Linked DNA regions of Homo sapiens: region 1 is linked to region 2. The links come from fine-mapping of genetic effects on gene expression. A gene starts in region 2. The other region holds a variant in brackets. All regions are shown on one strand. Distances are between the middles of the regions.

Region 1 (3,018 bases), 33 kb after region 2:
GTGATTTTTCTGAAACACTTTACCCCATTAAGAAAATAATATGGGCCGGGCGTGGTGGCTCACACCTGTAATCCCAAGAACCTTGGAAGGCCAAGGCAAACAGATCGCCTGAGGTCAGGAGTTCGAGACCAGCCTGGCCAATATGGTGAAACCCCTTCTCTAGTAAAAATACAAAAATTAGCTGGGCATGGTGGCAGGTGCCTGTAATCCCAGCTACTCAGGAGGCTGAGGCAGGAGAATCACTTGAACTCTCCCCAGACCTGTCCTAAGTGGTTGAAGAAGGAAGAGCATTCATGATGCTACACAAAACATCTTAACATAATTTACCCTGCACTTGGGCTCCAGTTAAGAAAAACAGAAAAGGTAAAGCTGTATTTTAAATTCATCTATTCCAGAAGAAATATTTCAGGGGCGGAGGAGCCAAGATGGCCCAATAGGAAGAGCTCCATTCTACAGCTCCCAGCCTGAGCAACAGAGAAGACAGGTGATTTCTACATTTCCATCTGAGGTACTGGGTTCATCTCACTAGAGAGTGCCAGACAGTGGGCACAGGACAGTGGGTGCAGCGCACCATGCGCCAGCCGAAGCAGGGCGAGGCATTGCCACACTCAGGAAGTGCAAGGGATCAGGGAGTTCCCTTTCCTGGTCAAGGAAAGGGGTGACAGACGGCACCTGGAAAATTGGGCCACTCCCAACCTAATACTGCACTTTTACGATGGGCTTAGGAAACTGCGCACCAGGAGATTATATCCCGCACCTGACTCGGAGGGTCATACGCCCATGGAGTCTCGCTTATTGCTAGCACAGCACTCTGAGATCAAACAGCAAGGCAGCAGCGAGGCTGGGGGAGGGCACCCGCCATTGCCCAGGCTCGCTTAGGTAAACAAAGCAGCCTGGAAGCTCAAACTGGGTGGAGCCCACCACAGCTCAAGGAGGCCTGCCTGCCTCTGCAGGCGCCACCTCTGGGGGCAGGGCACAGACAAACAAAAAGACAGCAGTAACCTCTGCAGACTTAAATGTCCCTGTCTGACAGCTTTGAGGAGAGCAGTGGTTCTCCCAGCATGCAGCTGGAGATCTGAGAAAGGGCAGACTGCCTCCTCAAGTGGGTCCCTGACCCCTGACCCCCGAGCAGCCTAGCTGGGAGGCACCCCCCAGTAGGGGTAGACTGACACCTCACACAGCAGGGTACTGCTCTGAGACAAAACTTCCAGAGGAACGATCAGACAGCAGCATTCGTGGATCGTGAAAATCCATGGTTCTGCAGACACTGCTGCTGATACCCAGGAAAACAGGGTCTGGAGTGGACCTCTAGCAAACTCCAACAGACCTGCAGCTGAGGGTCCTGTCTGTTAGAAGGAAAACTAACAAACAGAAAGGACATCCACACCAAAAACCCATCTGTACATCACCATCATCAAAGACCAAAAGTAGATAAAACCACAAAGATGGGGAAAAAACAGAGCAGAAAAACTGGAAACTCTAA[A/G]AAGCAGAGCGCCTCTCCTCCTCCAAAGGAACGCAGTTCCTCACCAGCAACAGAACAAAGCTGGACGGAGAATGACTTTGACGAGTTGAGAGAAGAAGGCTTCAGATGATCAAAATACTCCGAGCTACAAGAGGAAATTCAAACCAAAGGCAAAGAAGTTGAAAACATTGAAAAAAATTTAGATGAATGTATAACTAGAATAACCAATACAGGGAAGTGCTTAAAGGAGCTGCTGGAGCTGAAAGCCAAGGCTAGAGAACTACATGAAGAATGCAGAAGCCTCAGGAGCCGATGCGATCAACTGGAAGAAAGGGTATCAGTGATGGAAGATGAAATGAATGAAATGAAGCGAGAAGGGAAGTTTAGAGAAAAAAGAATAAAAAGAAAATGAGCAAAGCCTCCAAGAAATATGGGACTATGTGAAAAGACCAAATCTGCATCTGATTGGTGTACCAGAAAGTGACGGGGAGAATGGAACCAAGTTGGAAAACACTCTGCAGGATATAGTCCAGGAGAACTTCCCCAATCTAGCAAGGCAGGCCAACATTCAGATTCAGGAAATACAGAGAACGCCACAAAGATACTCCTCGAGAAGAGCAACTCCAAGACACATAATTGTCAGATTCACCAAAGTTGAAATGAAGGAAAAAATGTGAAGGGCAGCCAGAGAGAAAGGTCGGGTTACCCACAAAGGGAAGCCCATCAGACTAACAGCGGATCTCTCGGCAGAAAGTCTACAAGCCAGAAGAGAGTGGGGGCCAATATTCAACATTCTTAAAGAAAAGAATTTTCAACCCAGAATTTCATGTCCAGCCAAACTAAGCTTCATAAGTGAAGGAGAAATAAAATACTTTATGGACAAGCAAATGCTGAGAGATTTTGTCACCACCAGGCCTGCCCTAAAAGAGCTCCTGAAGGAAGCACTAAACATGGAAAGGAACAACCGGTACCATCCACTGCAAAAACATGCCAAATTTTAAAGACCATCAAGGCTATGAAGAAACTGCATCAACTAATGAGCAAAATAACCAGCTAACATCATAATGACAGGATCAAATTCACACATAACAATATTAACCTTAAATGTAAATGGGCTAAATGCTCCAATTAAAAGACACAGACTGATAAATTGGATAAAGAGTCAAGACCCATCAGTGTGCTGTATTCAGGAAACCCATCTCACATACAGAGGCATACATAGGCTCAAAATGAAAGGATGGAGGAAGATCTACCAAGCAAATGGAAAACAAAAAAAGGCAGGGGTTGCAATCCTAGTCTCTGATAAAACAGACTTTAAACCAACAAAGATCAAAAGAGACAAAGAAGGCCATTACATAATGGTAAAGGGATCAATTTGACAAGAAGAGCTAACTATCCTAAATATATATGCACCCAATACAGGAGAACCCAGATTCATAAAGCAAGTCCTTAGTGACCTACAAAGAGACTTAGACTCCAACACAATAATAGTGGCAGACTTTAACACCCCACTGTCAACATTAGACAGATCAACGAGACAGAAAGTCAACAAGGAT
Region 2 (2,708 bases):
TAAAGCACACATTTTTAACAGAATTTGTAACAATTTCATTTAATGTTATAAAATTGCAGAAGTGACATGTGCAGTGTTTTGTAAATTATCAAAGAGAATATAATCATGTCCCTCTGCGGTTCACTGTGTTTTGGGGTAAAATATCTTTAACCTTTCTTAAAATACGGTGCACATTTAGAGTTTTTCAGGTGTTCCAAAAAAAATACAACTAACGATTCTTTTTGACATTAAGCACGGAAATCGAAATTAACCTTTTTACTTTTATCATTTATGTATTTTGAAAATATCTAAGTGTTACTCATATGCATTCTACAAATTTTTAACTACCCAGGATGTCGAGTTTCTATCTCCTTCCACAGCTGCAACGCTTTTATTTCTTGAGGCACAGAAATGGTCTCTGAACGAACTCCTGTTATTTCAGCACTTTTTGCAAAATACAATACTTCAACCTGAAAGTAAAGAAAATGCTTTTAATAACAACTCATACTCGTTTTCTGACTGTCAATGTTGAGCAGTTTTCTCATTTTCCAAATGTATTGCTTTAATCAAAGACAAATTTTATAAAGAAAATTAAATAACCCGTAAAAAATTTCAGTATACCTACAAGTTCAAATTCTGAAAACTTGTTGTTTTAAATACAATTCAGACTAATTTCTGGATGCCTTTTAGTTTTACAAACTTAAGTGTGCCATCATTAAAATCCTAAGTATTTATCTTCTAGGAAAACATGTTAAGCCTGCCTTAATTGACATAAAAGTATAGCACCTTTTATAAATATGTAAGCAAAGAACAAATGTTTGAGTCAAGAGATGAGTTACACAAATAAAATAAATGAATAAATAAGCGAAAAACCTGTTTCTCACGGTTGTCAAATGACCTTAGATTCCGGTCTGTATAACATCGTCCCCAGACGCTAAGGATTAAGTTATGCAACATAGTAAATCTGACATTTACAGAAGCAAGTAGGTTTGAAACACACGACAGACTGGAATTTGCTAGAACAAACTTGTGCCAGCAGCCTGGTATGTAAGGGATCCGACGAAGTAAAATAGGCACCTGTCACTCCGTGCAAACAACTCTTTACGAAATAATTACAGGTTTGCAAATGATCAAGGGTGTAGAAATCCACAGATGAAGCACAGTTCTTCACAAGAATTCTCCATGAGGTGCATTTCTTTTTAGATTAAAATTTTAGCTTCATCAAAACGAATAATCTGGGAAAGAGGTGGTCATAAAAGGTGGAGGCGCCTTCAGAACGAGTCCGTCCTTGCTGCCGTGAGCTGACAAGAGTTCTCGGAGAGGACCCGACTTCTGCTGGGGCAGTCGCAGTAAAGCCCGGAGACAGGAAGGGCCCGGGGGCGGGGGCGGGGGCGCCCCCGAACCCAAGACGCCGGCCAGGTTGGGGGCTAGTGGGGAGGTCCGACTGACCAAGGCTGGGTATGTGGAGGGAAAGGGCGGGAGAGACACGTCGAGGAGGGCTCCGCACCCAGGCCCGCACGCACACCCGCCACCCTTACCTGGCACAGCGGCACCATCCCGCCTAGGACAGCGGGACCGAATCACGGCCGCAAAGGCGCAGGCGCGGGCTCACCCGGAGCGCAGGCGTAACCCGACGGCGCTCAGCCCCCGCCTGCGCCTGCACGGAGCATGCGCACAACCAGCTCCGCCCCGCGCCGGGCTCTAGCTGTTTCCCTCAGGCGGCCTGTTCCACGCCAGGATTAGTTTTGCTTCGCAGATGGGCCGTGGTGGTGAGAGGAAGCAATCAGTATGGAAATGGAGAAATGGCTTACCATGCATGTCCTTCTCCCCAGGAGGGAGGTCGTGGTGCAGGCGAGCAGACGCCAGACTCCTGGACACTTGCCGCCTGCGTTATGGAGGCTTAGCTAATAACCTTGCAGGGGTCTTCAGGCTTTTCCACTGGCTCACCTTTAGGCTTCTGACACTTTTACCTACGGTATGTGAACCTCGAAAATTTGAGACAGGTCTCAGTTAACTTAGAAAGTTTATTTTGCCAACGTTGAGGACATGCCCGTGACACAGCCTCAGGAAGTCCTGAGGACATGTGCCCAAGGTGGTCAGGGCACAGCTTGGTTTTATACATTTTGGGGAGACAGGAGACATCAATCAATATGTAAAAAGTACATTAGTTCCTTCCAGAAAGGCGGAGACCGTTAAAAGCAAGCCCCGCCCCCCCCAACTGGGGGCTTCCAGGTAGGTAATAGACAGTAGCATTCTTTTGAGTTTCTGATAAGTCTTTCTAAAGGAGGCAATCAGAATATGCATCTATTCTTTGTCAGCAAAAGAGGTGACTTGGATAGAATAGGAGGCAGATTTGCCCTGAGTAATTCCCAGTTTGAAGGGGCCCAAGATTTTTTTCTTTCCCAGGTATATGATTAGTGTTTCTTAAAGACAGAATATCCGCCTGGTCAGAACATTCGAACTGTATGACTTTTCCTGTTTATTGGCTGCTCGGTAATTGTATACTGTCCGTCCAACTTTCCCAATTCTTGCCAACAAGAACTCTTGGCTTTAAATTGCTTGCGTCGTTAAGTGGATGTAAGTTACACGTCCCTTTCCTTGGAGCTCACAGTCCTGGGTAGGAGAGTTTTAAATATGAATGATAATTCCCTGTAATACTAAGGATCTGTGTTACATTTCAAGGGTGGAAGGGGAAAGTGGTTGTGTCACCTGGGGAGTGAGAAGATGCT

The links. PIP is the estimated chance that this variant, and not a neighbour inherited with it, causes the effect.
Region 1: its variant is the best candidate, but not a certain one, in a credible set for the expression of MOCS2 in lung (TOPMed, PIP 0.51).

The regions. Positions count from the first base shown.
Region 1 is chr5:53,140,657-53,143,674 of GRCh38, forward strand. No RefSeq gene overlaps it. Among named protein-coding and RNA genes, the nearest start is that of MOCS2-DT, 32 kb to the left of the region's middle. The variant A/G (reference allele first, on the strand shown) is at 1,484.
Region 2 is chr5:53,108,195-53,110,902 of GRCh38, forward strand. MOCS2 (molybdenum cofactor synthesis 2) reads right to left here and starts at 1,563. Exons shown (of 7, transcript NM_004531.5): 1 at 1,057-1,563; 2 at 328-449. MOCS2-DT (MOCS2 divergent transcript) reads left to right here and starts at 1,648. Exons shown (of 2, transcript NR_104654.1): 1 at 1,648-1,954. RefSeq lists a silencer at 1,302-1,591.